Regions from separate parts of the Homo sapiens genome. Here regions 1, 2 and 3 are each linked to region 4. The links come from fine-mapping of genetic effects on gene expression. A gene starts in region 4. Each other region holds a variant in brackets. All regions are shown on one strand. Distances are between the middles of the regions. Region 1 overlaps ANGPTL4 (angiopoietin like 4). Region 2 has its middle 23 kb from the start of CD320. Region 3 holds the start of KANK3 (KN motif and ankyrin repeat domains 3). Region 4 holds the start of CD320 (CD320 molecule).

The links. PIP is the estimated chance that this variant, and not a neighbour inherited with it, causes the effect.
Region 1: its variant is fine-mapped to the expression of CD320 in whole blood (INTERVAL, PIP above 0.99).
Region 2: its variant is fine-mapped to the expression of CD320 in NK cells (Gilchrist 2021, PIP 0.94).
Region 3: its variant is fine-mapped to the expression of CD320 in whole blood (TOPMed, PIP above 0.99).

What each region holds. Positions count from the first base shown.
Region 1 is chr19:8,366,790-8,374,703 of GRCh38, reverse strand. It overlaps ANGPTL4 (angiopoietin like 4), which reads right to left. Exons shown (of 7, transcript NM_139314.3): 4 at 5,372-5,485; 5 at 3,553-3,648; 6 at 3,182-3,463; 7 at 334-999. The coding sequence ends at 818. RAB11B-AS1 (RAB11B antisense RNA 1) reads left to right here. Exons shown (of 3, transcript NR_038237.1): 3 at 96-328. Among named protein-coding and RNA genes, the nearest start is that of ANGPTL4, 6.6 kb to the right of the region's middle. The variant A/T (reference allele first, on the strand shown) is at 4,639.
Region 2 is chr19:8,281,155-8,289,068 of GRCh38, reverse strand. No RefSeq gene overlaps it. Among named protein-coding and RNA genes, the nearest start is that of CD320, 23 kb to the left of the region's middle. The variant C/T (reference allele first, on the strand shown) is at 4,423.
Region 3 is chr19:8,338,635-8,346,548 of GRCh38, reverse strand. It overlaps KANK3 (KN motif and ankyrin repeat domains 3), which reads left to right and starts at 3,287. Exons shown (of 11, transcript NM_198471.3): 1 at 3,287-3,324. It also overlaps the pseudogene LOC100129682. RefSeq lists enhancers at 3,053-3,844, 5,779-6,279. The variant C/G (reference allele first, on the strand shown) is at 3,963.
Region 4 is chr19:8,304,601-8,312,514 of GRCh38, reverse strand. It overlaps CD320 (CD320 molecule), which reads left to right and starts at 4,157. Exons shown (of 5, transcript NM_016579.4): 1 at 4,157-4,366; 2 at 7,359-7,484. The coding sequence starts at 4,225. It overlaps NDUFA7 (NADH:ubiquinone oxidoreductase subunit A7), which reads left to right. Exons shown (of 4, transcript NM_005001.5): 4 at 920-1,231. The coding sequence ends at 1,010. RefSeq lists enhancers at 1-574, 3,329-3,858, 3,914-4,653, 4,538-4,667, 4,654-5,394 and silencers at 4,055-4,393, 4,368-4,457.

The DNA.
Region 1 (7,914 bases), 62 kb before region 4:
CTTGGCTCAAGTGATTCTTCTGCGTCAGCCTCTAGAGTAGCTGGGACTACAGACGTGCACCACCATGCTCGGCTAATTTTTGTATTTTTTTGTAGAGATGGGGGTTCCACCATGTTGGCCCGGCTGGTCTCGAACTGCTGACCTCAAGTGACCTGCCTGTCTCGGCCTCACAAATGGCTGGGATTACAGGCACGAGACACCGTGCCTGGCCCTGGGAACATGTTTACATGGACTTTGTTCACTTTTTAAAACAAACTGAGGGTAACTTACTAGATCTGTGAACTAAAGAAAGAGAAAAAAAAGAAAGAAAACAAACAAGAACAAAGAACAAAGTGTTCTGAGGTTGCTTTTATTCCAAGAACTCTGTGAGCTCCGCCCAGATACCATTGGCGCCTGCTTGTGTCCCCAGGGGACCTACACACAACAGCACCAGCACCATGAGGGCGCTCTCGACCCACACAAGCCCTGGTCCCCGTCAGTCAATGTGACTGAGTCCGCCATTGAGGCCAGTCTGGCTGGCCCCAAGTGGTCCCTCTGAGTCCCCAACTCCCTGGCCAGCAAGGAGTGAAGCTCCATGCCCCTTGGTCCACGCCTCTAGAGTCTGAGCATATCCTGCAGCCTCGATCTCAGGAGGCAACGCATGCAGCCCCCCTGCACTCAGAAAGGGGGCTTCTCCAGTCGTGGTCTTCTTCTCTGTCCACAAGTTTCCAGATGGCCCCTCCTTGGAGCCCCTGCCCAGGCAGGGAACGGCCACATCCTCGGGCAGAGCCAAGAGTCACCGTCTTTCGTGGGCCTGGGACCAGGCCCAGCCAGGACGCTAGGAGGCTGCCTCTGCTGCCATGGGCTGGATCAACATGGTGGTGGCCTGCAGCGGGTAGTAGCGGCCCCGCCAGGTCTTCCAGAAGATTCCCTTCTTAAGCTTCTGCCGCTGCTGTGGGATGGAGCGGAAGTACTGGCCGTTGAGGTTGGAATGGCTGCAGGTGCCAAACCACCAGCCTCCTGCCGGGGTCAGGGGAGAGGGAACATGGTCAGGTCTTTGAGCCACCGATGGGGCTGAAAGGAGATAGGGATAGGGTTGAGGATGAGGCAGGTTGGGGACCAGGCTGGGCTTTGGACTTGACTTTTTTTTTTTTGAGATTGAGTCTTACTCTGTCACCCAGGCTGGAGTGCAGTGGTGCGATCTCAGCTCACTGCAACCTCCGTCTCTCAGGTTTAAGTGATTCTCCTCCCTCAGCCTCCCGAGTAGCTGGGATTACAGGCGCCTGCCACCACACCTGGCTAATTTTTGGTCTTTTTTTTTGAGACTGAGTCTCACTCTATCTCCCAGGCTGGAGTGCAGTGGCACAATCTCGGCTCACTGCACCTCTGCCTCCCAGGTTCAAGGGATTCTCATGCCTCAGCCTCCTGAGTAGCCGGGATTACAGGCACCCGCCACCACGCCTGGCTAGTTTTTGTATTTTTAGTAGTGAGGGGGTTTCACCATGTTGGCCAGGTTGGTCTCAAACTCCTTACCTCATGTGATCCACCCTCCTCAGCCTCCCAAAGTGCTGGGATTACAGGTATGACCCACTGCGCCTGGCCTAATTTTTGTATTTTTAGTAGAGACAGGGTTTCACCATGTTGGCCAGGCTAGTTTTGAACTCCTGACCTCAGGTGATCCACCCACCTCGGCCTCCCAAAGTGCTGGGATTACAGGTGTGAGCCCCCACACCCGGCCTTATTTTTAAGTTTAAAAACAATTTTTTTTGAGACAGGGCCTGGCTCCATTGCCCAGGCTGGAGTGCAGTGGTGTGGTGATGGCTCAATGCAGCGTCAACCTTACGGGCTCAAGTGATTCTTGTACCTGGGCCTCCCAAGTAGCTGGGACCACAGGTGTGAGCCACCATGCCTGCATTTTTTCTTTTTCTTTTGAGGCAGGGGTCTCACTCTGTCACCCAGGCTTGAGTGCAGTGGCGCAGTCTCAGCTCACTGCAGCCTTATCTCCTAGGCTCAAGAGATCCTCCCAACTCAGCCTCCCAAGTAGATGGGAACACAGGCAGGCACCACCATGCCCAGCTAGTTTTTTGTATTTTTAATTGAGACAGGATTTCGCCCTGTTGCTCAGATTGGTCTCCTGGGCTCAAGTGATCCACTCGCTTCAGCCTCCCAAAGTGCTGGGATTGCAAGTGTGAGCCACCGTGCCTAATTTTTTTTTTTTTTTGAGAATTGCTTGAACCCGGGAGGTGGAGGTTGCAGTGAGCCGAGATCGCACCACTGCACTCCAGCTTAGGCAACAGAGTGAGACCCTGTTTCAAAAAAAAAAAAAAAAAAAGAATCCTGTGGAGCACCATTATAAAGATGTTTGTGGCCGGGTATTGTGGCTCACGCCTGTAATCCCAACACTTTGGGAGGCCGAGGTGGGCAGATCACTTGAGGTCAGGAGTTCAAGACCACCCTGGCCAACATGGTGAAACCCCGTCTCTACTAAAAATACAAAACAATTATCTGTGCATGGTGGCGGGAACCTGTAATCCCAGCTACTCAGGAGGCTGAGGCAGGAGAATCACTTGAACCCAGGAGGCGGAGGCTGCAGTGAGCCAAGATCACGTCACTTGCACTCCAGCCTGGGAGACACAGCGGGACTCTGTCTCAAAAAATAAATAAGTAGGCCGGGCGCGGTGGCTCACGCCTGTAATCCCAGCACTTTGGGAGGCTGAGGCAGGCAGATCACGAGGTCAGGAGATCGAGACCATCCTGGCTAACACGGTGAAACCCCATCTCTACTAAAAATACAAAAAAATTAGCCAGGCGTGGTGGTGGGCACCTATAGTCCCAGCTACTCGGGAGGCTGAGGCAGGAGAATGGTGTGAACTCAGGAGGTGGAGCTTGCAGTGAGCCAAGATCGTGCCACAAAGCACTCCAGCCTGGGTGACAAAGTGAGACTCCGTCTCAAAAAATAAATACATAAATAAATAAATAAACAAACACATAAGTAAATAAAAGTAAAGACGGTCAAGACCCTTTTCAGGATGGGAAAACTGAGGCCAGATAGGCTAAGTTAGTGGCCCAATCACACACACGGCATGTAAGGAAGAGGTGGGGGCAGGAAACAGATGCAATGTGGGGTTGAAGGCAGGACAGAGCAGCAGAAAGATAAGGAGGGAAGCTGCTGGCTGGGTGTGGCATGGCAGGGCCTGCTCACCAGAGAGGCTCTTGGCGCAGTTCTTGTCCCTGCGGAGGTCGTGATCCTGGTCCCAAGTGGAGAAGGGTACGGAGAGGCCGCTGGGTGGGACGGTGGTGGCGCCCAGCTGGCCGGCCACGGGTGCAGTGAGCTGCAGGCTATAGGCCGTGTCCTCGCCACCCAGGTGCACGGAGAACTGCAGCAACTCGGCGTTGCCATCCCAGTCCCGCAGCTGCACGGCCAGGCGGCTGTTGCGGTCCCCCGTGATGCTATGCACCTTCTCCAGACCCAGCCAGAACTCGCCTGGAGTGGGAGAGGCCACTCCATGAGGCAGGGCCACTTCTGAGGGTCCCTCTTCCTCCCCTGCCTCTGTCCCCACTAGAAACACCTACCGTGGGGATCCCCAAACCCCGCCTTGTAGGCTTCCCAGGGCCGGTTGAAGTCCACTGAGCCATCGTGGCGCCTCTGAATTACTGTCCAGCCTCCATCTGCCCAGAAAGGTACAAGGTCACCAGGAAGTCCCTCTTCACAGACGACCCCACTCCCTCATCTGGCTGCCAAGCACCAAACCCCCTCCAAACCCAGGAAGACAGCAGCTCCCTCACTCATCCCTGGAGGACTCGAGGAGGGTGGGTCAGAGGGAGGAATATTATGGGCTGGCCTTGGGAAGATCTTTGTCCCAAGAACCCAGCAGGGACTGAGTGTGGGAGGGAGTAGGCAGTGGAAATCTGCAAAGCCTCTCTGGGCCAGCTGAACTGGGTAAAACCCCGTGTTGTAACCTCTTGTAATGGAAAGGACTTCTCAGTGGAAAAAAAAGCTTTCTTTTTTTTTTTTTTTTTTTTTAGAGATGGAGTCTCACTCTGTTGCCCAGGCTGGATCGCAGTGCCGCAATCTCAGCTCACTGCAACCTCTGCCTTCGGGGCTCAAGCGATTCTTGTGCTTCAGCCCCACAAGCAGCTGGAATCACAGGCACGCCCGGCTAATGTTTATGTTGGTAGAGATAGGGTTTCACCATGTTGGCCAGGCTGGTCTTGAACTTCTGACCTCAAGTGATTTGCCCGCCTCAGCCTCCCAAAGTGCTGGCATTTCAGGTGTAAGCCACCGTGCTCAGCCTTTGTTTTTTTTTAGAAACGAGGTTTTGTTGTGTTGCCCAGGTTGGAGTGCGGTGGCTATTCACAGGTGTGATCACGGCTCACGGCAGCCTTTAACTCCTGGGCTGAAGTGACCCTCCTGCCTTGGCCTCCCGAGTAGCTGGGACTACAGGCATGTGCCACCATGCCCAGCAAGGGCTGAATTTTATTTTATTTTATTTTATTTTCTCTTTTTTATTTTTTTGATGGGGGGACGGAGTCTCGCTCTGTCGCCCAGGCTGGAGTGCGGTGGCGTCATCTCAGCTCACTGCAACCTCTGCCTCCCAGGTTCAAGAGATTCTCCTGCCTCAGCCACCTGAGTAGCTGGGATTACAGGTGCACACCACC[A/T]TGCCCGGCTAATTTTTGTATTTTTAGTAGAGACGGGGTTTCACCATGTTGGTCAGGCTGGTCTCGAACTCCTGACCTCGTGATCTGTCTGCCTCAACCTCCCAAAGTGCTGGGATTACAGGTGTGAGCCACTGCACTTGGCCTTTTTTTTTACTTTTACAAAATTTTTTGTAAAGATGAGCTCTCACTATGTTGTCCAGGCTGGTCTCGAACTTCTGGGCTCAAGTGATCCTCATGATAGGCCTCCCAAAGTGTCGGGATTACAGATATGAGCCACTACACCCAGACAAGGGCTGCATTTTAAAGAAAAGAGGCCAGGAGCAGTGGCTAATGCCTATAATCCCAGCATTTTGGGAGGCCAAAGTCGGCAAATCATTTGAGGTCAGGAGTTTGAGACCAGCCAGACCAACATGGTGAAACCCAGTCTCTACTAAAAATACAAAAATTAGCTGGGTGTGGTTGCTCGCACCTGTAGTCTCAGCTACTGGGGAGGCTGACGCTGGAGAATTGCTTGAACCCGGGAGGCGGAGGTTTCAGTGAGCTGAGATCGTGGCATTGCACTCCAGCTCCAAGAGCAAAACTCCATCTCAAAAAAAAAAAAAAAAAAAAAGACCAGCTTGGGCAACATAGCAAGACCCTGCCTTTAATTTTTTTGTTTTGTTTTGTTTTCAATTTAAAGAAAGACAACAGGGCCTATGGGGAGAGGGGCCCCTGGTGGACTAACACACCCTACCTGAGGTCATCTTGCAGTTCACCAAAAATGGCGGAGACCCCTGAGGCTGGATTTCAAATAGTCCACTCTGCCTCTCCCCAACCTGGAACAGCTCCTGGCAATCCCTGGGCAGCCCTGAAGGGAGATAAAGTGGAGACTTGAAACAGGAGGGCAGCCCCTGGGGGGGGTCTCAGGAGCCAGGCATATCTGGGGGCTTAACAGTGGATGACCAGGGAAGTAAAAGGCAAATCTTATCTCATGACCACCTCTCTGCCATCTGCCTAACCTCTTCCATGGCTCCCTATGTCCTTCCTCAGCATGGTCCACAAGGCACCTGGAGGACCAGCCCCCGTGCCCATCCTCCTCCTGCCATGCTGTACCCACACCCTCTCTGGCACACAGGCTTTCTTCCCACCCTTGTACCACACACCGTCCTGCCACAGGGACTTTGCACATGCTGTTCCCCCTGCCTGGGACTCTCTTTTTTTGTTTTGTTTTTTGATACGGAGTCTCGCTCTGTCGCCAGGCTGGAGTGCAGTGGCGCAATCTTGGCTCACTGCAACCTCCGCCTCCCAGGTTCAAGCAATTCTGCCGCAGCCTCCGGAGCAGCTGGGACTACAGGCATGTGCCACCACGCCCGACTAGTTTTTGCATTATTTGTAGAGACGGGGGTTTCACCATGTTGGCCAGACTGGTCTCGATCTCCTGACCTCGTGATCCGCCAGCCTTGGCCTCCCAAAGTGCTGGGATTACAGGTGTGAACCACTGCGCCCGGCGGGACTCTCTTTCCTCACTTCTCTCTCTGGGTCCCAGCTTCTGGAAGGACACCCTGCCTTGCCTCACCCCCAGACCAGGCCAGAACACCCCAAATGGGAATTGAGCAAGGACTTCCCACTCCTGGACACTGAGGTCATCTAATGGTCTCTCCTCTGACTCAATGGAGGCTCCATGAGGCTGGGGACAAGGAGCAGCTCTGCCCACAGCCTGGCACCAGCATCCACGCAGGCCCCAGCGCATAGCAGCTGCTCAATAAAGACTTGAGGAATGGGCCGGGCGCAGTGGTTCATGCCTGTAATCCAGCACTTTGGGAGGCGGGCGGATCGGTCAGGAGTTTGAGACCAGCCTGGTCAACATGGCCAAACCCCATCTCTAGTAAAACATACAAAGATTAGCTGGGTGTGATGGTGGACGCCAGTAATCCCAGCTCCTTAGGAGGCAGAGGCAGGAGAATCACTTGAACCCGGGAGGCAGAGGTTGCAGTCAGCTGAGGTTGAACCATTGCACTCCAACCTGGGTGACAGAGTGAGACTCTGTCTCAAAAAAAAAAAAGACTTGATAAATGAATAAAAATTAGCTGGGCGTGGTGGCGGTAGGCGCCTATAATCCCATCTACTTGAGAGGCTGAGGCAGGAGAATCACTTGAACCCAGTGGGAGGCAGAGGTTGCAGTGAGCTGAGATTGCGCCACTGCACTCCAGCCTGGACAACAGAGCGAGACTCCGTCTCAAAAAGCAAACAAAACAGTCTTGACAAATGAATGAATGAATGAATGAATGAGGCAGCAGGTCCAGAACGGGAAGAACTGTGCTGAGCAGGAGCATCTCAGAGGCTCTGCCTGGGGTCCCAGCTCCTAGAGGGAGAGGAGGCAGGGTTGAGGAAAGAAAGAGGGAGGGAGGAGGGGAGGATGGCGTTGAGCACGTCTGGAGGCTCAGACGCTCCAGACTGGGAGGAACCGCCCCCAGCCCAGCCGGAAAAGTAGGGGAAAGGTCGAAATGAGTCTGCACGGTGGGGGTGGGGGCGGGCCCAGAGTGACCAGGAAGACGCTTTCCGGCCCCTCAGGCATCTCCCCTTTCCCCTACTTTCCTCCCATCCAGTAAGGATGGGCACGCGGCCAAACCACCAGTGTGGCTTCCATGAATGCCAGCTGTTCGCCTTCCCAGCTCTGAACTTTCTCCTACTTGGCGGGCCTGAGCCAAGAGTCTGGGAGTCCCGAACCCACAGAACCCCTGCCCCCTTCCACCGCATTTCCCAGCCAGGACTTGTGCCTTCCCCCGTCACCCTCCAGAAGCCCCTCATCCTGGGATGGTGGCTTTGGGAGGGTGGACAGGACCCTGACCACGCTGAGATGCTAGCCTGGCGGGGTTGGGGGCGGGCAGCACGGAGGTGGGAAGGAGCGGGAGCTTGGGGAGGAGAGAACCCTCAGGTCTACAGTGCTGGAAGCCTGCCACTGACCCTAGGGTGTGAGAGGGGGATCCAAACTTTCACCCAGTTGGCTGTGGACAGCCACAGATGCAGGGAAGGATGAGGACCACAGAGAAACCGTGTGGGGCCGTGAACTTAGAGAACCGCGAGTCTGCATCGGACACACGTGGACATGCTGTGGTTCGAGATGAACGGAGATTTGGGAATAAAGCACCTACAACTTGTGGTGGCAGCAAAAGCCCACTTTCTGCGGTGGGGAGGGGGCCGGCGGGGGCGGGGAGGGAGGAGGAGAACAAGAGAGGAAGGAGGAAGAGGGGTCAGGGACCTGGAGCATTGGATTTGTAAGATACAAGAGTGTTTCTG
Region 2 (7,914 bases), 23 kb after region 4:
GAGTTGGTGGAGAAGGGGGCGTGGTTTTGCTGCATCCAGGGCAAATTGATTCTCACAGGGCAAGAGGAAGAGCCACTGCGTCTGGGTCCTGATGCAGGTCTGCAGGTTGATGGAGGGCAGTGGCTCTGGAAGGTCTCTCCTGCTGATTTCTGTTTTCTCAGAGATGCCACCTGGTCTGTGACAAAGATTGGTAAACAGGAGGATGATGTCAGTATTAAGAGGAAATAACAGGCCGGGTGCGGTGGCTGACGTCTGTAATCCCAGCACTTTGGGAGGCCAAGGCTGTCGGATCACTTGAGGTCAGGAGCTCGAGACCAGCCTGACCAACGTGGCGAAATCCCGTCTTTACTAAAAATACAAACATTAGCCAGGCATGGTGGCCTGTGCCTATAATCCCAGCTTCTCAGGAGGCTGAGACAGGAGGATCGCTTGGACCCGGGAAGCGGGTGTTGCAGTGAGCCGAGATCGCCCATTGCACTCCGGCTTAGGAGACAGAGTAAGACTCTGTCTCGGGCGGGGTGGCGGGGGAAACAGGGAATAACAGTAGGGGAAGTTCCTAGTAATGCATGTTTTTCCAAGTCCCAGAAAGAACATAGCGGCAGATGGCAAGTTGCCCCTAGGTGGTGGTCGTTCCCCATGTCCAACACCCAGTCAGCCTCGGGCTAATCCAGGGTCACTGACCATGTGCTTATCTGGCAGTTCTCCCTGGTTTTCATGCATTTTACTTTTGCTTTAACCTTTTCTGTTTCCGATCGAGTGACCATCATTTTTTTTCTACTGTTAAATATACATATCAATACATAATAGAAAAAAATACAAAAAGTACGTAAGTATTATACCTAAAAATAACATAAAATTGACCACTTTAACAATTTTAAGGTGGGCTTCAAAGGTATTCAGTATTTTTACAATGTTGTGCACTCATCACCACCACCCATCTCTAGAACTGTTGTTTGTTTTTGTTCTTGTTTTTTGTTTTTGAGACAGAGTCTCGCTCTGTTGCCTAGGCTGGAGTGCAGTGGTGCTGTGATCTCAGCTCACTGCAACTTCTGCCTCCTGGGTTAGAGTGATTCTCCTGCCTTAGCCTCCCGAGTAGCTGGCATTACAGGCACGTGCCACCACGCCCAGCTAATTTTTTGTATCTTTAGTAGAGATGGGGTTTTCACTATGTTTGCTAGGCTGGTCTTGAACTCCTGACCTTGTGATCCACCTGCCTCAGACTCTCAAAGTGCTGGGGTTACAGGCGTCAGCCACCATTCCTGGCCAAGAAATCTTTTTTGTTTGTGAGATGGGGTCTCATTATGTTGCCCAGGCTGGTCTCAAGCTCCTAGCCTCAAGTCATCCACCTGCCTTGGCCTCCCAAAGGGCTGGGATGATAGAATTTAGCCACAGTGCCTGGCTTCCTCTTTTTTTTTTTTTTTTTTTTTTTTTTTTTTTTTTTTTTTGAGATGGAGTCGTGCTCGGTCATCCAACCTGGAGTGCTGGAGTGCAGTGGTGTGATCTTGGCTCACTGCAACCTCCACCTCCCAGGTTCAAGCAATTCTTCTGTCTCAGCCTCCTGTAGCTGGGACAACAGGTGCATGCTACCATGCCTGGCTAATTTTTGTATTTTTAGTAGAGATTCGAGATGGGGTTTCACCATATTGGTTAGGCTGGTCTGGAACTCCTGACCTCAGGTGATCGACTGGCCTTGGCCTCTCAAGTGCTGGGATTACAGGCATGAGCCATTGTGCCCGGCCACATCTGTTTTTATCAAAGTGAAATTCATATAACATAAAATTAACCATTGTGAAGTGAATGATTCAGTGGCATTTGGTACATTCACAGTGCAGTGCAACCATATCTATCTACTGCCAGAATATTTTCATGACCCCAAAAGGAAGCCCTGTACTCATTTTGGTGACTCACACATGTAATCCTAGTGCTTGGGAGGCCGAGGTGGGAGGATGGTTTGAGGCTAGGAGATTCAGATCATCCTGGACAACATAGCAAGGCCTAATCTCTACCAAAAATAAAAAAATTAGCTGGGTGTGGTTGTGTGCACCTGTCATCCTAGCTACTGGGAAGCCTGAGGCAGGAGGATTGCTTGAGCCCAAGTGTTGGAAGCTGCAGTGATCTGTGATCACACCACTGCATTCCAGCCTGGGCAACAGAGCAAAACCCTGTCTCTAAAATAAAAAATTTAAAAATAAAAGAAATTGGATATTCTCCCCCTTTCCCTCTTTTTTTTCCCTCCCCCCCAGCCTGGCCAATATGGTGAAACCCTGTCTCTACCAAAAATACAAAAAATTGGTTGGGTGTGGTGGCAGGCGTCTGTAATCCCAGCTACTCGGGAGGCTGAGACAGGAGAATCGCTTGAACCTGGGAGGTGGAAATTGCAGTGAGCTGAGATCACGCCATTGTACTGCAGCCTGGGTGACAGAGTGAGACTCTGTCTCAAAAAAGAAAAAAAAGGTTTTATTATTTATCCTGGGCATCATAGGGATCTCTGCAAATTTTTTTTTTTTTTTTTTTTTTGAGACAGAGTTTCGTTCTTGTTGCTGGGATTACAGGCATGTGCCACCCCACCTGGCTAATTTTGTATTTTTAGTAGATAAGGGGTTTCTCCATGTTGGTCAGGCTGGTCTTGAACTCCCGACCTCAGGTGATCCGCCCGCCTCGGCCTCCTAAAGTGCTGGGATTACAGGCGTGAACCACTGTGCCTGGCCTATACATTTTTTTTTAACTAGCTGTGGGTGGTGGTGTGCACTTGTAGTCTCAGCTACTTGGGAGGCTGAAGTAGGAGGATTGCTTGAGCCTGGGAGGTCCAGGCTGCAGTGAGCCGTGATCAGGCCACTGCATTCCAGCCTGCGTGTCACAGCAAGACTGTCTCAAAAAACAAACAAAAACAAGTAATGTACTTGAATCATCCTGAAACCATCCCCACCCCTGGTCCGTGGAAAAATTGTCTTCCATGAAACCAGTCCCTGCTGCCAAAAAGGTTGGTGACCGGTAAAGTTAATTCACACCCTGACTTCTGGGTGACAGGGCAAAGTTCCTCCCTTATCCTCAGCTTCTAAATCTCTGAATGGGATGTTGGGGGCCACAGTAGCCTCCTTGCAGGGGAGTGACCTCCCTGGGACCGTTAGAGATGGACTCAGATGGACCTGTTGCCCAGGTTGGAGTGCAGTAGTGTGATCACAGCTCACTGCAGCCTTGAACTGGGATCAAGAGATCTGCCTGGGCTGGGCACGGTGGCTCATGCCTGTAATCCCAGCACTTTGGGAGGCCAAGGTGGGCGGATCACCTGAGGTGAGGAGTTCGAGACCAGCCTGGCCAACATGGTGAAACCACATCTCTACTAAAAATAGAAATATTAGCCGGGTGTGGTGGCAGGCGCCTGTAATCCCAGCTACTTGGGAGGCTGAGGCAAGAGAATTGCTTGAACCTGGGAGGCAGAGGTTGCAGAGAGCCAAGATCCTGCCATTGCACTCCAGCCTGGGTGACAAGAGCAAGACTCCATCTCAAAAAAAAGAAAAATCCTCCTGCCTCAGTCTCCCGAGTTTTGGGATTACAGTCACATGTATCACACCCAGCTAATTTTTTATTTTTGTAAAGTCAGGGTTGGTCTATGTTGCCCAGGCTGGCCTCCAACACCTGATCTCAAGGAATTCTCCCACCTCGGCCCCCCACAGCGTTGGGATTACAGGTGTGAGCCACTGCATCCAGCCAGGTTTTTTCTCTAACGTTTTCTCTGTCACGAGTCAGCCTCGACGGACAACAGGGTATGTCAGGGATATGTGTGCCCGGCTGTGAGGCTGGTGTGGGTGCCACATGCCACCTAAGTGGACCTCTAGGCTCTGGACCGTCCTGACTGTCATGCATTCTTGTTCTCAGTGGAGCAAACCGCCCCATGCCCACTGGCTCCAAACACCTGTTGTCGCATCCTCTCTCCTGGCTCTGGGCTGACCAGGCTCACTGGGGGTTCATTTGTTCCATGTGACAGTGGCTGCCATCATCTGGGGGCCGGGCTGGCTGGATGTCCCATCCAGAAGGTCTGTCATGTCTGGGATAGCTGACCTCTCCATGTGGCCTCTCCACGTGGACTCCTGAGCAAGGTGGCCACACTCCTGCCACGGTGACTTGGGGTTCCCCAACACACAAAGCAGAGAGACTGCTGGGTCAATGTTGCCGATGCTGTATTCTGTGGATTCAGTGGAGTCCAGGTCAGCCCAGATCCTGTGTGTGTGTGTGTGTGTGTGTGTGTGTGTGTGTGTGTGTGTGAGTGGGGGGAACACATAAGGGCCTGAACACCCTTTTGAGACTATCTCAAAAACATTATTTATTTATTTATTTATTTATTTATTTATTTTTGAGACGGAGCCTTGCTCTGTCTACCTGGCTGGAGTGCAGTGGTGCAATCTCGGCTCACTGCAACCTCTG[C/T]CTCCCGGGTTCAAGCGATTCTCCCGTCTCAGCCTCCTGAGTACCTGGGACTACAGGCCTGCACTAACACATCAGGCGAATTTGTTTTCTATTTGTAGTAGACACGGGGTTTCACCATGTTGGCCAGACTGGTCTCGAACTCCTGACCTCAGGCAATCCGCTCACCTCGGCCTTCCAAAGTACTGGGATTACAGGCGTGAGCCACAGTGCCTGGCCAAAAAAAACTTTTTTTATTTTTCTTTTTTTAAAGTCTCCCTCCTCCCCCTCGCCTTTTTTTTTTTTTTTTTTTTTTTTTTTTTTTTTTTTTTGGTGGAGTTTCCCTCTTGTTGCCCAGGCTGGAGTGCAATGGCTCCATCTCGGCAAACTTTGCCTCCTGGGTTCAAGTGATTCTCCTGCCTCAGCCTCCCGAGTAGCTGGGATTATAGGCATGTGCCATCATGCCTGGCTAATTTTTTGTATTTTTAGTAGAGACGGGGCTTCTCCATGTTGGTCAGGCTGGTCTCAAACTCCCGACCTCAGGTGATTTGCCTGCCTTGGCCTCCCAAAGTGCAGGGGTTACAGGCGTGAGACACCACGCCCGCCCCCCTCCCCTCTGCCTTTTTTTTTTTTTTTTTTTTTTTTTTAGAGATGAGGTCTTTCTACGTTGCCCAGGCTGGTCTCTTAACTCCTCAGCTCAAGTGATCCTCCCACCCTAGCCTCCCAAAGCACTGGGATCACAGGTGTGAGCCATGGTGTCCGCTGTTACCCACTCTTAAGGGGATTGTTTGAGACTAATGAGTCCTTTCTCTGCGGGTTGCCATTTGCACCAACAGAACAAGACCAGGTTCAGTAAAGCAAGATAGAAACTTTATTCGTCAATCAATGAATGGAGAAAGGGAGGAACTCCTGCTCAAAGTGCCTACTCCCTGCAGGTGTGATGAGGGGAGTTTTAAAGTTTCCTAGGGCATGTAGATGCAGACTGGGGGTGGGGATTCCTGGAAAGAGGTGGGGCTTTCTAGGGGGCACTGAAGTGTTCAGCCTTTCTTTTCTTTTGTACCTGGCATTATATGTGCTTAGCAAAGTGCACCTCTCCCCACTGAAGACTTTTTTTTTTTGGTTTTTCTTTTTTTGAGACAGAGTCTCGATCAGTCACCCAGGCTGGAGTGCAGTGGGGCGATCTCAGCTCACTGCCACCTCCGCCTCCCAGGTTCAAGCAATTCTCCTGCCTTAGCCTCCTGAGTAGCTGGGATTATAGGTGTGACCCATATAATCCCAGCTTTTTTTTTTTTTTTTTTTTGAAACAGCACCTCACTCTGTTGCTCAGGCTGAAGTACAGTGGTGCGATCGTAGCTCACTGCAGCCTCGACCTTCTGAGCTCAAGCAATCCTCCTGCCTCAGCTTCCCAAGTAGGTGGGACTACAGGCATGCATCACCACGCCCGGCTAATTTTTACATTATTTTTTGTAGAGAGAGGGTCTTTTTTTTTTTTTTCTGAGACTGAGTCTCGCTGTGTCGCTCAGGCTGGAGTGCAGTGGCACAATCTCAGCTCACTGCAACTTCTGACTCTCGGGTTCAAGCAATTCTCCTGCCTCAGCCTCCTGAGTAGTAACAGGCGCGTGCCACCACACCCGGCTAATTTTTTTTTTTTTTGTATTTTTAGTAGAGACAGGGTTTCACCATGTTGGCCAGGGTGGTCTCAAACTCCTGACCTCGTGATCTGCCCACCTTGGCCTCCTGAAGTGCTGGGATTACAGGCCAAGAGAGGGTCTTACCATGTTGCCCAGGGTGGTCTTGAACTCTCTGACTTAAGCAATCCTCCCTCCTCACACTCCCAAAATGCTGGGATGACAGCTTGGAGCCATTGTGCCCTGGCTGTGGAGATTTTACTCTGCCCATGGAGTGAGGATTCAGGCAGATGGAGCACTGCTGAGGTCAGCTCTCATCTTGTGGCTCAGTTGTGGTTAATGGCATCCGGCCTTCATGCCTGTAAACTAGCACAGCTGTGAGCAGGGGTTAATTTCTTTTTTTTTGAGACAGAGTGTCGCCCTGTTGCCCAGGCTGGAGTGCAATGGTGTGATCTCGGCTCACTGCAACCTCTGCCTCCCAGGTTCAAGCATTTCTCCTGCCTCAGCCTCCTAAATAGCTAGGATTACAGGCACACACCACCATGCCTGGCTACTTTTTTGTATCTTTAGTAGACACCAGGTTTCACCATGTTGGCCAGGCTGGTCTCGATGTCCTGACCTCGTGATCCACCCGCCTCAGCCTCCCAAAGTGCTGGGATTACAGGTGTGAGCCACCATGCCCGGCCAGAGCAGAGATTAATTTCACAGGTTCTGGGGCTCCCTAAAAGAATGGATGTTATAGTCCGGGTGTGGTGGCTTACGCCTGTAATCTCAGCACTTTGGGAGGCTGAGGTGTGGGTGATCACTTGAAGTCAGGAGTTTGAGACCAGCCGCCTTTCTCACCCTCCCAAAGTGCTTGGATGACAGCTGGGAGCCAGTGCACCCTGGCTGTGGAGATTTTATTATGCCAGTGGAGTGAGGAATCAGGCCTATGGAGCACTGCTGAGGTCAGCTCTCATCTTGTGGCTCATTTGTGGTTATTGGCACTTGGCCTTTGTTCCTGTAAGCTAGCACAGCTGTGAGCAGCGGTTAATTTCTTTTTTTTTTTTTTTGAGACAGAGTCTTGCTCTGCCACCAGGCTGGAGTACAGTGGCGCGATCTCGGCTCACTGCAACCTCCGCCTCCCGGGTTCAAGTCATTTTCCTGCCTCAGCCTCCCAAGTAGCTGGGATTACAGGCGCTCACCACCACGCCCAGCTAATTTTTGTATTTTTAGTAGAGACAGAGTTTCACTATGTTGGCCAGGCTAGTCTCGAACTCTTGACCTCAGGTGATCCACCCACCTTGGCCTCCCAAAGTGCTGGGATTACAGGCGTGAGCCACCATGCCAGGCCGGATACAGGGTCTTTAAAGGGGTGATTAAGGCCAGGTGTGGTGGCTCACACTTGTCATCCCAGAACTTCAGGAGGCTGAGGTGGGTGGATTGCACAAGGCCAGCAGTTTGAAACCAGCCTGGGCAACATAGGGAGAGCCTGCCTCTACTAAAAATACAAAAAATTAGCTCGGTGTGGTGGTGCACACTTGAATCCCAGCTACTCAGGAGGCTGAGGCACGAGAAATACTTGAGAACAGGAGGCAGAGGTTGTAGTGAGCCAAAGATCCCACCACTGCACTCCAGCCTGGGCAAAAGAGTGAGAGTCTGTTTCAAAAAAAAAAAAAAAAAAAGCCTAAGTGTGGTGGCTCACGCCTGTAATCCCAGCACTTTGGGAGGCTGAGGCAGGTGGATCACCTGAGGTCGGGAGTTCAAGACCAGCTTGACCAACATAGTGAAACCCGTCTCTACTAAAAATACAAAATTAGGTGGGCATGGTGACACATGCCTGTAATCCCAGCTACTTGGGAGGCTGAGGCAGGAGACTTGCTTGAATCTGAGAGGCGGAGGTTGCAGT
Region 3 (7,914 bases), 34 kb before region 4:
TGGGGTTCTCTGGGTCAAGTAAATAGCGAACCATTTTCCCAGATTACCTCAGGCCACTTAGGGAAAGAGTATACATTTGTTTTATGTGGTTTCTTGAATCTGCTGTGTGTGTGCATCTATGGACGCTTTATTTTACAACTATATATATATATATATATATATATATATATATATATATATTTTTTTTTTTTTTTTTTTTTTTTTGAGACAGAGTTTCACTCTCGTTGCCCAGGCTGGAATGCAATGGCTCACTCTCGGCTCACTGCAACCTCTGCCTCCCAGGTTCAAGTGATTCTCCTGCCTCAGCCTCCCAAGTAGCTGTGATTACAGGCATGCACCACTACACTGGGATAATTTTGTGTTTTTAGTAGAGACGGAGTTTCTCCATGTTGGTCAGGCTGGTCTCGAACTCCCGATATCAGGTGATCTGCCTGCCCTGGCCTCCCAAAGTGCTGGGATTACAGGCGTGAGCCACCGCACCCGGCCACAATAAAAATATTTTAGGGCTGGGTGCGGTGGCTCACGCCTGTAATCCCAGCACTTTGGGAGGCTGAGGCAGGCAGATCACGAGGTCAGGAGATCAAGACCATCCTGGCTAACACGGTGAAACCCCGTCTCTACTAAAAATACAAAAACAGCCAGGTGTGGTGGTGGGTGCCTATAGTCCCAGCTATTCGGGAGGCTGAGACAGGAGAATGGCATGAACCCGGGAGGCGGATCTTGCAGTGAGTGGAGATCACACCACTGTACTCCAGCCTGGGTGACAGAGCAAGACTCCGTCTCAAAAAAAAAAAAAAATTATATATATATATATATATATATATATATATATATACACACACACACACACACATATATTTTAAACATTCCAATGGAGGCCAAGTGCAGCGGCTCATGCCTGTTATGCCACTATTTAGGGAGGCTGAGGCAGGAGAATCACTTGAACCCAGGAATTTGCGACCAGCCTGGGCAACATAGAGAGACCCTGTCCTTACAAAAATAAGAAACCTGCTGGACGTGGTAGCACATGCCTGTAGTCCCAGCTACTCGGGAGGTTGAGGTGGGAGGATTGCTTGAGTCTGGGAGTTCAAGGCTGCAGTGAGCCATAGGTCTTGCCACAGAACTCCAGCATCGGCAACAGAGTAAACTTTGTCTCAAAGGAACAAAGAAGAAAATTCCAATGGAGTTTCTGTGGGGAAACGCGACAGAATTCCACAGTTTTAACTGAAAGAATCAACCAATTAAAATAGCCCAGGAATTTTGTTTTTTTTTAAAAAGTATCAGATGTTAAAATACATTTTAAAATATTACTATATTCTGGCCAGGTGCTGTGGCTTATGCCTGTGATCCCAGCACTTTGTGAGGCCAAGGCAGGTGGATTGCTTGAGCCAAGGAGTTGAAGACCAGCCTGGGCAAAGTAGTAAAAGCCCGTCTCTACTAAAAATAAAAAAAATTAGCTAGGCGTAGCACACACTTGTAATCCCAGCTACTTGGGAGGCTGAGGCAGGAGGATCTCTTTAACCTGGGAGGCGGAGTTTGTAGTGAGCTGAGATATTGTGCCACAGCACTCTACCCTGGGCAACAGAATGAGACCCTGACTCAAAAAAGAAAAAGAAAACATTATTTCAGCAAACATTTATTAAGCATCTACTGTGTACTAGGGTCGCTGGATAAAGCAGTTATCAAAACCAGTTTCCTGTTCCCATGGTGCTGACACTTAATTTAGAGACAGAGTCTCACTCTGTTGCCCAGGCTGGTCTTGAGCTGCTGGGCTCAAAAGATCCTCCCACCTCAGCCTCAGGAGGTGCTAGGATTACAGGCATGAGCCACCCCACCTGGCCTTGGTGCCGACACTTTAGTGAGATGGCAAGCAGGTAAACCAATAAATAACCAGCCAGGCATGGTGGCTCACGCCTGTAATCCCAGCACTTTGGGAGGCTGAGGTGGGCGGATCACCTGAGGTCAGGAGTTCGAGACCAGCCTGGGCAACATGGTGAAACCCTGTCTCTACTAAAAATACAAAAATTAGCTGGGCGTGGTGGTGTGCGCCTGTAATCCCAGCTACTTAGAAGGCTGAGGCAGGAGAATCGCTTGAACCCCAGGAGGCAGAGGTTGCAGTGAGCCAAGATCGCACCACTGCACTCCAGCCTGGGACAGAGCGAGACTCTGTCTAAAAAAAAATTAAATTAAATTAAAAAATAAACCAAATAAATAACTGAGTGTTTCGTTTTTGTCTTTTTGTTTTGTTGTTTTCTTTTGTTTTGAGAACTAGGTCTTGCTATGTTGCCCAGGCTGGTCTCAACTCCTGGCTCAAGCTATCCTCCCATCTATGCCTCCCTAAATACTGGATTTACAGGCGTGAGTCACTGCGCCTGCCAATAACAGAGTCTGCTTTTTTTTTTTTTTCCAGATAGTAAAAGTAGCTATTAGGTTAATACAATAGAGTGATGAGAAAAATACTAACTGGGGAGGGGCTATGTCAGGAATTTAGGGGGCAGCAACACAAAAGCTGAACCTCAGAAAGTAGGGAAGGCCGGGCGCGGTGGCTCACGCCTGTAATCCCAACACTTTGGGAGGCTGAGGCGGGCGGATCACTTGAGGTCAGGAGTTCCAGACCAGCCCGGCCAACATGGTGAAACCCCATCTCTACTAAAAATACAAATATTAGCTGGACGTGGTGGTGTGTGTCTGTAATCCCAGCTACTCGGGAGGCTGAGGCAGGAGAATTGCTTGAACCCAGGAGGCGGAGGTTGCAGTGAGTGTCACTGCACTCCAGCCTGGGACTCCGTCTCAAAAAACAAAAACAAAACAAAACAAAAAACAGTAGGGGAGCCTCAAAAAGTACCTACGTGTACAGGTGCAAGGGAAAGCATTTCAGGTAGGTGGAACAGCATGTGCAGAGGCCCTGCGGTGGGGAAGATCCGGGACCTGATACTTCACCCAGGCACTGCGAAATAAGTGCCAGTTATAGAAATCCCACCGGGTTACTCTTCTACTCATAGTTCTCCCATGGCTCCCTCGTGCCTGTGGATCAAATCCAAGCTCCTTGGCCCGGCGCTGGGCAGAGACTTGACCTCTGCTGGTGCAGAAATGCCGCCAGCCAGCGCTCGGCGACCGTCACTCCAGGGCCCGCCCTCAGTCACCACCCCTACATTCCAGGCCCCGCCTGCCTGTCCCACCCCACCGTCCCACTGGGCGGCTTGGAGAGCCTCGGGTGCTGGTTGGCTGGCGTGGCCGTCAGTTAGGGCGAAGGCCTTGATAATCAGTCCCCGGACTTCGAGGGGGCGGGCTCGGGTGCGGGCGCGGCTGGGGCTGCGGCTTCAGGTAAATTGCCAGCTTGCGGGGACACGGATGGGGGACCCCTGGGTGGGTGGATTCGGGGACGCACCGGGACCCGGCGCTGCGCTGCGTTTCCAGCCCCACTGAGGGCTCTGCCCGCTGCGACGGGGCGGGCGTCGTGTCCTCTGGCCGGGACCCCTCCCACATTGGAAGTCCCAGGTGGGTAGCGAGCAGAGTGGGGGGCTCTGGAGGCGTGGGCTTGCCCCCCTCTCGCCCTTCGGGAGCTCACTGCGGGGCTCGTTCGCTCCCTAATGCCACAACCGGCCCTGGGACCCTTTCCCGGGACGGCCTGGGGACCCCAGCCAGCCCCTCGCGCTGGGCTGGGTGTGGGAGCGTGTCACGGAAATGGTGTTTTGGGGAGGGACGCACGGCCCCCGGACCCGCAGACAATGGGTAGCGGATGGAACCGCCCGGCGGCGCTTCCTGTAGGAAACTGCTCTGTCTCTGTGCGGCTAGGACGACCTGGGGGTGGACGGGTGATGATGACTTTAACACCCACCTTCCTGCCGCCACCGGTCCCCCACCCACCCACCTCAAGAGTCTGAGAGTCCCAGCAGACATCAGGGGCTGCCAGTACTCAGGGCCTCCTGGAAGGCGCCCTCTCCCCAGGACTGGGATCCTCA[C/G]TGGCCTGCCGTGGCCCCCACCACTCCGGTTTGGTGATCACAGCTCTGCGTCCCAAAATAGTCCCTGGGGCGGGAGAGGGGGCGTGTGGCGTCGGCTCTGACGGCCTAATGAGGGGGTCTCAGGCACAGAATCCGGATCTAGCTGTGACAGTCAGGGCAGGGAGCGGAGGAGAGGGAAGGCAGCTAAACGCCCCACTTAGTGAGGCCCCAGCCCCTGAAGCCGCAGAGGTGGTGGGCACCTCCGCCCCCAATCAGAGTCTGACACAGGTGTAGGCTGGGAGGGACAAGCCCCCTGAGGCTCCTTGGTGGTTCATGCCTGTTATCCCAGCACTTTGGGAGGTCAAGTAGGGCTGATCTCTTGAGGTCAGGAGTTTGAGACCAGACTGACCAACATGATGAAACCCGTCTCTACTAAAAATTCAAAAATTAGCCAGCTGTGGTGGCAAGTGCCTGTAATCCCAGCTACTCAGGATGCTGAGGCAGGAGAGTCGCTTGAACCCTGGGCTCAGAGGTTGCAGTGAGCCGAGATCCTGCCACTGCACTCCAGCCTGGGTGACAGAGACTCCGTCTCAAAAATAAAAATAAAAGAAAGCATTCAAGTGTAGTGGCCAAAGCAAGGACTCTGGAAGACCTGCCTGGGTTTAAAACCTGCCTCTGCCTGTTTATGACAGGACCCAGGCAGGACACTAAACTGTTCTGTGTCTCAGTTTCTCCATCTGTACAATAGGGGAAGGGACAATGATCATAGGAAATCCAACCTCAGTGGATTTAGCTAGGATTTTAAAAAATAAGTCAAGGTCAGGTGCAGTAGCTCATGCTTGTAATCCCAGCACTCTGGGAGGCTGAACTGGGAAGATTGCTTGAGCCCAGGAGTTGGAGGCCAGCCTGGGCAATATAGCAAGACACCTGTATCTACAAAAAATAAAATTAGGCCGGGCACGGCTCACGCCTGGTTTGAGACCAGCCTGGCCAACATGGTGAAACTCCGTCTCTACTAAAAATACAAAAATTAGCCAGGCATGGTGGTGCACACCTGTAATCCCAGCTGCTTGGGAGGCTGAGGCAGGAGAATCACTTGAACCCGGGAGGCGGAGATTGCAGTGAGCTGAGATTGTGCCACTGCACTCCAGCCTGGGCGACAGAGCATGACTCCATCTAAAACAAAAAACCAAAAAATTTAAAATATTAGCCTGAATTAGCCAGGTGTAGAGGTCCATTCCTGTAGTCTCAGCTATTTGTGAGGCTGAGGCGGATCACTTGAGCTCAGGGGTTCAAGGCCACAGTGAGCTATGATCGAGCCACTGACTCCAGCCTGGGTGACAGAGTGAGCGAGACATTGCCTCTAAAAAAAAAAAAAAAAAAAGTAAATATCCATAAATTCCTTAGACTAGAGGCTGGCCCATAGTAAATATCAAAAGCGTTGTTATTATTTGACATTCTGGAGGGATCCATTCCTTTCTTAGCCCAGCCTCTGGATCCAACTGCTTCAGCTAGTTTAGGTCTTAGGAATGGCCCACAGCTGTCTTCTGAGATCCCAGGGCCTGGGATTTGGGTGTGACCAGGTCACCGGAGGAGGACGCTGACCCCATTGCGTCATACGGCCAGCTGTGTGAGAAGTAGACCCAGACCCCCCAACCCTTGATCTGGACTTTTTCCACAACCCAGTTCTTCCCTGGCAATTTCCTGAAAACAAGTGATGAACGGCATTGGCTGTCCTCTGCGATGACCCGCTGGCCTGTTGATCCACCCCTTGCAGCTGGTGTGAAGGGACGGGAAACAGCTGCTTGGGGACTGGAAGAGGCCCCCTGCCTGGCCTTGGAGTGGGAAGGGAGAGGTCAGGGACCTCGGCCAGACAGAAGTGGGAAATGGAGTTACGGTTTCCCCAGCGGTGGAGTAGGGTAATGAGTCAGGAGGGCTGGTGGGTGCTCAGTGCTTCATAGCATCAGGCACACAGGTGGTCCCAGGGATTCGAGAAGCCAGAAGGGGTGGCTGGGAGTGTTGCCATGTGGTTAGCACAGACGGGCCGTGGCCCAGGGAGAGGATGAAGTGGGTTTGGCAGATGCCTGTCAGTGGAGGACTGGACAGGTAAAGGGCAGTCAGAAGCTGTGGCAGGGACCTGCTGACAAGGGTTCCGCAGATGGGCAGAGCCCAATCTGAGGGTGCTTCCCACAGGCAACTGATTTAATTGTTCTGTGCCTCAGTTTCTCCATCTGTAAAATATGAATAATAATACTACTTTGCAGTATGCAAAGTGTTGTATGGGGGCTGTGTGTGTGTGTGTGTGTGTGTGTGTGTATATATATATATATATGGTTTTTTTTTTTTGAGACGGAGTCTGGCTCTGTCCCCCAGGCTGGAGTGCAGTGGCATGATCTCAGCTCACTGCAACCTCTGCCTCCCAGGTTCAAGCGATTCTCCTGCCTCAGCCTCCTGAGTAGCTGGGACTACAGGCATGCACCATTGTGTCCAGCTATGGCGATGACATTTAATCAGGAAGGGCACACCGTAGGCACTTTCCCCTCCCTGAAGGTTTTCCATGTGGGCTTTCCAAAGCCCATCTTTCCCACTCCATGTTCCTGTGCTTTTCTTTTCTTTTCTTTTCTTTTTTTTTTTTTTTTTTTTTGAGACAAGGTCTTGCTCTGTCAACCAGGCTGGAATGCAGTGGCATGATCATAACTCACTGCAGCCTGCATCTCCTGGACTCAAGAGATACTCCTGCCTCAGCTTCTTGAGTAGCTGGGACTACAGGTGCATGCCAACACATCCAGCTAATTTTTGTGTTTTTTGTAGAGATGGGGTTTCGCTATTTTATTTATTTATTTAGAGACAGAGCTTCGCTCTTGTTGCCCAGGCTGGAGAGCAATGGCTTGTGAGCCACTGTGCTTGGTGGTTTCACTATTTAAAAACAAACAAACAAAAGAGATAGTGGCCAGGCACCTTGGCTCATGCCTGTAATCCCAGCACTTTGGGATGCCGAGGTGGGTGGATCACCTGAGGTCAGGAGTTCGAGACCAGCCTGGCCAACATGATGAAACCCTATCTCTACTAAAAATACAAAAAATTAGCCAGGTATAGTAGCAGTGGCTGTAATCCCAGCTACTCAGGAGGCTGAGGCAGGAGAATCACTTGAACCCAGGAGGCAGAGGTTGCAGTGAGCCAAGATTGTGCCACTGCACTCTAGCCTGGGCAACAAGAGGGAAATTCTGTCTCAAAAAAAAAAAAAAACAAAAAGAGATAGGGTCTCGCTATGTTGCGCAGGTGGGTCTTGACTCCTAGGCTCAAGCGATCCTTCTGCTTTGGCTTCCCAGAGTGCTGAGATTTCACCCTGTGCTTTTTGAACCAAAGTTCTGGATTCAATATTTGTCCTTGTTAAATATCACATTATTATATGTGGCCCAATCTTCCTCACTTTCTTACAGCCTCCATCATGTCATCCAAACAGTCACTTTCCCAGGCAGCCCCATGAATAGTCACAGCTCTGACAACCCAGGTGTTTTGTGTTTGCATTACAAACTCTTACAAGCCAAGGATCAAGCCTGTGACACTCCGCTAGCGACATTCCAGGGAGACAAGTATCCGTTGATTTGTTGATTTGGATCTTTGGTGCATCCAGCCCGCAATTCCCCATCATTCCTGCAAGAGTTTCACAACTGACCTTGGTAAAAATTTGGATGCACAATTACATCCTTTTTTTTTTTTTTTTTTTTTTTTTTGAGACGGAATCTCGCTCTGTTGCCAGGCTGAAGTGCAGTGGCGCCACCTCAGCTCACTGCAAGCTCCGCCTCCCGGGTTCACGCCATTCTCCTGCCTCAGCCTCCCGAGTAGCTGGGACTACAGGCGCCTGCCACCACGCCCGGCTACTTTTTTATATTTTTAGTAGAGATGGGGTTTCACCGTGTTAACCAGGATGGTCTCGATCTCCTGACCTCATGATCCGCCCTCCTCGGCCTCC
Region 4 (7,914 bases):
AGCAAGAGTCTGTCTCAAAAAGAAGGAACTCAGTGGAGTGGTCCTTGTTGTCACCTTCTGATTCACTGGAGTCCAGCACCAGAGTGTGGCAAGATACCTTGTTCCCACACAGCCCCTTGCCATGCCCCCAGAGATGTGTGCATTTCCCAGGGAGGCCACTTCTGCCTTTTCCATTTCCTTGAGGCTCCTGGGAGGTCCTGTGCCTCCACCCCTGGGGCGCCTCCTCCATCACCCCACCCTCCTGCTTCCTTTCTTGCTTAGGCTGTGAAGTGTGTGAGCTCCACAGGCTCAGGTGGGTGGGGTGAGAGGGGAGGGTGCTCGTCCTGGACTTGCCGGCACAGGGTCTCCTGGGGGCTCCCTCTTGGCCAGCTCTGGGCCAGAGATGCGTTTTGCAGTTGCCATTTGCGCATGGATTCTCAGCCCCACCAGCCTGAGTCTTCCTGAGGGCGGTGCCCCATCTTCCTGGCTCTGCGCCCACACAGTAGCGCCTGCCATGCAGTTCTTGCCCAGTCTGAGGCAGGAATAGCTGGAGGCCATTGTCACCTGATCGCTTGGCCCTTTTGCCAGCATCCTGTTTTGAGGGGCAGCAGGAATGGGGGTGGGGGCCTTGTGTACGCTGGAGACCAAAAGTGGGAAGGGAGGAGCCCAGCTCTCCACAGTGGGTTCTGGGCCTGGGGGCCACAGCAGGGGGTTCATACAGGGCTCAGGGGAGAGAGGAGGCTTGCTAGCTCCCACCTGGCGTTGGCTGATCCTCTGAGGGGCTGCGTTGGAGGGGTTGGCATTCTGGAACACCCTGCTGTCTGTCCTGCAGGTCCAGAAAGTCCCTGTGGGTGTGTTTGTCCCGGGGCAGGTGTGGGCTCCCTCAGATCTTTCCACACTGTTCTTTGGAAACCCTCACTGAAGTCTTTCCCTCCTCCAGCTCTGCTGTAGCTGCCACTGAGAAGAAGGCGGTGACTCCAGCTCCTCCCATAAAGAGGTGGGAGCTGTCCTCGGACCAGCCTTACCTGTGACACTGCACCCTCACGGCCACCCGACTACTTTGCCTCCTTGGATTTCCTCCAGGGAGAATGTGACCTAATTTATGACAAATACGTAGAGCTCAGGTATCACTTCTAGTTTTACTTTAAAAAATAAAAAAATAGAGACAGAGTCTCACCATGTTTCCCAGGCTGATCTTGAACTCCTGGCCTCAAGCGATCCTCCTGCCTTGACCTCCCAAAGTGCTGGGATTACAGGCATGAGCCACCACACCTGGCCTGATTTTATTTTTATTTTTTAGACCTTCCCACTGAGGCCTCTGCTTGACCTTGGTCACCCTGTAGCTCAACGGGGAAGGCAAAGGACAGTGAGGGCTGCTTACAGGGAAGGCAGACCTAGGGCAGATCAGGAAAGGCCTCCCTGAGCCAGAAACCATTATGCTGGGGCTGTGGGATGAGAATGAGTTAGCTCCAGAAGGAAGGCAGCTGGTTCCTGGGGAGGAGATAGAAATCTGGCTGCAGGAGCCAGAGTTTTCGCGCTTGTCACCCAGGCTGGAACGCAACGGCACGATCTCAGGTCACTGCAACCTCTGCCTCCTGGGCTCAAGCAATTCTGCCTCAGCCTCCCGAGTAGCTGGGACTACGGGTGTGCACCACCATACCCGCTAATTTTTTTTTTTTTTTGTAGAGATGGCCAGGCTGGTCTCAAATTCCTGACCTCAGGTGATCCGCCCGCCTTGGCCTCCCAAAGTGTTGGGATTACAGGTGTGAGCCACCACGCCTGGCCCCTGATTTTAAGCAATACCCAGCTTACTTGGATTTTGGGGTGAAGTCAGTGCTGAGTCTCCCAACTCTGTTGGCACTCCAGGGGTGGGACAGACACTGTCCCTGGGTGCAGAGGCCCTGGAGACAGCACTGCCCTTTCCCCCAAAGGCCAGGCTCTGACCTTGAGAGTGGTGGGAGTGGGTGATCCTTCTGGGAGGTTGGACTCCCAGGACCGCTGGCTGTTGGGGAGCATTGATTGTGAAGACCAGTCAGGTGGGGTAAGGGGTGTATGTGCGGACACTCAGTAGGCCAGCCACAGACTTCTCACTTCTTTTTTTTTTTTGAGACAGAGTTTCGCTCTTGTTGCCCAGGCTAGAGTACAATGGCGCGATCACGGCTCACTATAACCTCTGCCTCCTGGGTTCAAGTGATTCTCTTGCCTCAGCCTCCCGAGTAGCTGGGATTACAGGCGCCTGCCACAAGCCCAGCTAATTTTTGTATTTTTAGTAGAGACGGGGTTTCGCCATGTTGGCCAGGCTGGTCTCAAACTCCTGACCTCAAGTGATCCGCCCACCTCTGCCTCCCGAAGTGTTGGGATTACAGGCGTGAGCCACCGCGCCTGGCCTAACTTCCATCTCTTGAGGGCTCCCACAGCCACTTCTCACATGAACCTTCCTCAGCACCTTCCCACTGAGGCTCCTGCTTGACCATGGTCACCCTGCAGCTCAACGGGGAAGGCAGAGGACAGTAAGGGCTGCTCACAGGGAAGGCAAACCTAGGGCAGATCAGGAAAGGCCTCCCTGAGCCAGATCCCATTATGCTGGGGCTGTGGGATAAGAATGAATTCGCCCCAGAAGGAAGGCAGCTGGTTCCTGGGGAGGAGACAGAAATCTGCAAAGGGAGGGTGTCCAAGTCTGGCTGCAGGAGCCACCCAGTGACCCTACGCAGGGGAGTGTCATGGCTTCCCCAGGGCACAGCCCCAGACCCTTCAGCAGCTAAAAAAGATCAGCTGTGGACCAAGAGGGTGCTGAGACCGCCCTGCCCTCTGGAAGGGGAAAGGCCACGGCTACAGGCAGCAGGTACCAGTGTCCCAGAGTGGGTCCTACAAAGGCTAACACCTTCCTGGAGAAGGTGGGATTCTGCTTGGGGCAAAAGGATGAATCAGATTCAGAAAGGTCAGGAGGGAAGGAAAGACTAGGCAGGGTGTGCAGAGGCCACAAGGAGGGCAAGACCCTAGGCAAGGCATGCCGCTGACGGCATCTGAACCAAGTTTTATGACCACAACTTTTTTTTTTTTTTGAGACAGAGTCTCACTCTGTCACCCAGGCTGGAGTTCAATGATGTGGTCTCGGCGCACTGCAACCTCCGCCTCCCGGGTTCAAGCGATTCTCCCATCTCAGCCTCCCTAGTAGCTGGGACTACAGGAGCATGTTACCACACCCGGCTAATTTTTGTATTTTTGGTAGAGACGGGAGTTTTACTATGTTGGCCAGGCTGGTTTAGAACTCCTGACCTCGTGATCCGCCTGCCTCGGCCTCCCAAAGTGCTGGGGTTAACAGGCGTGAGCCAGCGCGCCGGCCAACTTTTCTAACAAATGGGGTCTCACTGTCACCCACGCTGGAGTGCAGCCCCAAGTGATTCTCCCACCTCAGCCTCCTGAGTAGCTGGGACTACAAATTAGAGCCACCATGCCCAGCTAATTTTCTTTTTTCTTGAGGCGGGCGGGGACTTGCTGTGTTGCCCAGGCTGATCTCGAACTCCTGGGCTCAAGCGATCTGCCCGCCTCTGCTTCCCAAAATGCTGGGATCACACACGTGACCCACCGCGCCCGGCCTTTATTATTAAATTTAATTAATTAATTGATTTCCTTTCCTTTTTCCCCCCCAAGCAACCCGACTCCGAGAATGGACGTTTCATTTATTCATTTACTCACCAAATGTTTACTAAGAGCCTACTATGAGTCAAGCACTATGTGTCAGATCCTGAGAATAAAGCAGTGAGCAACAGAAGATCCCTGCCCTCCAGTAGCTAGCATTCTATGGGGACTCGGACAACAAACCAGAATAAGTAAATAAAATAAATTACCTGTCGGCGCCACAAAAGCAGTGGGATGAGGGAGGAAATGCGGAGTGCCTGAGGGGCGTGGCTGCCATATTAAAGAAGATCACGAGGCAGTAACATTTGCAGCAGTCCTCATTTGGAACGGGAAATAATGCAAATGAACACCAACAAATTCCTTCCCATCCCCAGAAGTTTCTAACTTCAAGCGGGCTCCATACCTTTCAACTGATCTGGTCACTGGGGAAAGTGGGGACGGGCCTCTAATTCTCTTTTCCCTGCTATTCTGACATTTACGGTACGCGTAGCCGCGGGCGCCGCAGAACTCAGGGGCTTGGGCCCCGCCCCAACCCCGCGCGTGCGCGTGCGCAGGGATAAGAGAGCGGTCTGGACAGCGCGTGGCCGGCGCCGCTGTGGGGACAGCATGAGCGGCGGTTGGATGGCGCAGGTTGGAGCGTGGCGAACAGGGGCTCTGGGCCTGGCGCTGCTGCTGCTGCTCGGCCTCGGACTAGGCCTGGAGGCCGCCGCGAGCCCGCTTTCCACCCCGACCTCTGCCCAGGCCGCAGGTGAGTGACGCCCCGCAGCGCGGGCTCCCACCCCTCGCGAGGCTTCGCCCCGCCGCCGCGCACCGACAACGCCTAGTCACTGGCTGCACCGCACGTCAGTTCATGACACTCCCCCAGCACGTGGACTTGGACTTCATCGCTTGTGGGAAGGCGCGCACTGGTGCTAGGAAGACCCCATGCTGGGGGAGGGGAGGAGGGTGTCTCCACCTGCCTTTAACGGTTTTGCTCCGGCCCTGCACACCGTCTCCACACCTGCTGTGCCCTGTCGTCCCCCATTGTCACCTCCAAGCCGCCCTTCATACCAGCGTGGTCAGGAAAGCTCTTAGCAGGCTCAGATTGTCCGACCGCTAATCACGCAGGACGGGTCACCTGGTGCCTCTCGCACCTTTGCCTTCCAAACCCTCGCGCCCAGGCCTTGTGACCGTTCCGCAACCGTCCCTGCCCTCCCAGTCTCTCCTCCTTTGTCCTCCATCCTTAGAGAACGCGAGGTCTCTCCCCCCCATGCTACTGCAGGCTCTCGCAGAGACTGGGGTCACAAGTTGAATATACCCCCGTGGACGTGTTCGCCCTGGCCTAAGAGGTATTGGTGGCCAGTGGGGACGGGCTCCCTCTCTGATACCCCTAGAGGCAGCTGGAGGGTTGGAGTGGCCTCCCTGTGCACTCAGGCACTCCCAACTTGCAGCCCTGGGCTCAGGCTCACACACTTTCCCAGCTCCTTTGTGCATTCCGCACTTCTAGGTCCCTGGACTCATCCCAAAGTCCCTGACATTCACGTTAAATGTTCCTGGGTTTTTTTTTGTTTGTTTTTTTTTAAGGAGGCAGCGTTCACGTTAACCAAGTACAAAAGTTTTTGTTTTTTTTTTTTTGAGTCTCCCTCTGTCGCCCTGGCTGGAGTGCAGTGCAATGTTGGCTCACTGCACCCTCCGCCTCCCGGGTTTAAGCAATTCTCATGCCTCAGCCTCCCGAGTAGCTTGGGACTACAGGCACCGTCACCATGCCCGGCTAATTTTTGTATTTTTAGTAGAGATGGGGTTTCACCATGTTGGCCAGACTGGTCTCGAACTCCTGACCTCAAGTGTTCTGTCCGCCTCAGCCTCCCAAAGTGCTGGGATTACAGGACAAAACTCTATACACAGTCTCTTTTTTCTCAGGATGTTGAGGTAGGGATTCCCAGCATACCCCGTTTACAGGTGAGGAAACTGAGGCCAGGAGAGAAAGTCACTGGTCACTGTAACTCCTGTCAGGCTTACACCCTATGAGGCGGGGACTGCTGTGCTCTACTGTCCACTTTGCAGAGGGATACACACTCCCGCAGTCCAGCGAAGGGAGGTCAGAGGTGTCAGGGCTGTGGAAGTCTGCGCCTGGGTGGAGAGCCACACCTGGAGGCTGCCAGATCTCCCGGGGGCGGGGAAGGAAGCAGGCACCGGTTTGTCCACAGCTCTTCTGGGATCCATAGAGCTCAGGGACCCTGTGGCAAGTAGGTGCAATTAGGCCTGAAGGCCGAGGAGGGGCTGGCAGTGGGGAGTGGGGGGTTGGAGGCTCATGGCTGGTGGGTAAAGGTGGAAGAGGTTAAAGGCCTTGGCAGAGTGAAGCTAAGCCAGGGTGGCGGATTTGCCACCTCCCCTGGCCGCACCCAGGAGGAAGCCGTAAAGGCCACTCCCTTCCTCTGTCCCTTGGCCCAGGTTGCGGGCCCCTCCGTGCCCCTCCAGGTCGGCAAGCAGCTGAGCTTCCCTGCTCAGAATCTAGGACAGCCGGGATCTTCTCTGGACCCAGCTTGGACCCTTATGTGACCTGTGTCCACTTATAATCAGGCACTGCCCTGGGTTTAGGCGGCCAGGTCACAGCCCTGACCTCCACAGAATGTCCAGTCTGTGGGTGGACAGGCATGACCAGGGCTTTAAGGACAGTTGTTAGACATGGGAGGCAGTGCTTCCTAGGTCTCCAAGAGGGACATGAGAACCCTCCCAGGAAATCAGCTGAGATCTGAAAATTGAGGGGAAAACACAGGGTGTAGGGAGGAGAGAGGGAAAGGCAAGTCTCTGGTGTCCTAATGGACCTTGGGGCCTGGGGCCTGGGGCTCTGGTGAGGAGCTGACACATTTAGGATGGGGAGAGTGATAGGTCTGGGAGGAATTCAGGAGGCGGGGCAACAGGACTTGGTGACTGAGCAGATTTTCTACCCAGTGCCTCAGTTTCCCACCCACTGCCTCAGTTTCCCTTTTGCTACGCAGAGGAGATAGACCCTCCCTGCTGACCTGAGCCCGGGAGCCTGACCCAGGGCATGTGGAAAAATGGCCCGTCCCTCAGTCTCTTTAACCACTGAGTTTGGAGGTCTCCCTGGCAGATCATCTCGCTATGAGGAGCCTGGTGAAGACTCTGGGATCAGCGAGACCTGAGTTCGAAGCCCAACTCCGCTACCAGCTCTTTTTTTTTTCTTTTTTGTGGTGACGGAGTCTCGTTCTGTCGCCCAGGCTGGAGTGCAGCAGTATGATTTCGGTTCATTGCAACCTCCATCTCCCAGGTTTAAGCGATTCTCATGCTTCAGCCTCCCGAGTAGCTGGCATTACAGGCGTGCACTACCACGCCCGGCTAATTTTTGTATTTTTAACAGAGACGGGGTTTCCATGTAGGCCAGGCTGGTCTCGAACTCGTGACCTCAAGTGATCCACCTGCCTCGGCCTGCCAAAGTGCTGAGATTACAGGCGTGAGCCACTGCACCCAGCCTCTGCCACCAGCTGTATGGCCTCCTCTTGGTTCCTTTCTCTGTAACCTGGGGAGTGCAGTAGCACCTGCCCAGTGGGGCTCTTGAGCCCAGGAACTGCTACACTCTGAACCCCACTCGTACTAGGGGCTCAGTAACAAGCAGCCGCCAGTGTGGTTCCTATATCCCGGGACTTCGCCTGTCTCCTGCGGATCACAGCCAGTGACTACTGTGCTCTTGGAGAAAGGTCCAGCCTCCAGCTTCCCAGGCTTCATTTGCATCCATCTCGCAGGCCCCAGCTCAGGCTCGTGCCCACCCACCAAGTTCCAGTGCCGCACCAGTGGCTTATGCGTGCCCCTCACCTGGCGCTGCGACAGGGACTTGGACTGCAGCGATGGCAGCGATGAGGAGGAGTGCAGTGAGTGGCCACGCCCCTTGGCGGGGCTTACAGGGGGCGGGGCCTGAGGGTGGTTTGTCAGGGGCCAGGCACGCGGAGGTGGAGCTTGTGGGAAAGGCAGGGCCGCAGGGATGGGTGCGACTTGGGTCTGTGGGTCATAAGAAGCGGGGTCTAAGATGGGCTTGGGCTGGGCGCAGTGGCTCACGCCTGCAATCCCAGCACTTTGGGAGGCTAGGGTGGGAGGATCGATCACTTGATCCTGGGAGGTTGCCGCTGCAGTGAGCTAGGATTGTGCCAGTGCACTCCAGCCTGGGCAACAGAGTAAGACTGTCTCAGGAAAAAAAAAGAAAAAGAAAAAAAAAAGAAAAATGAAAGAAAGGAAAGAAAGGAAGGAAAGAGAGAGGGAGGGAGCCAGGTACGGTGGCTCACACATGTAATCCCAGCACTTTGG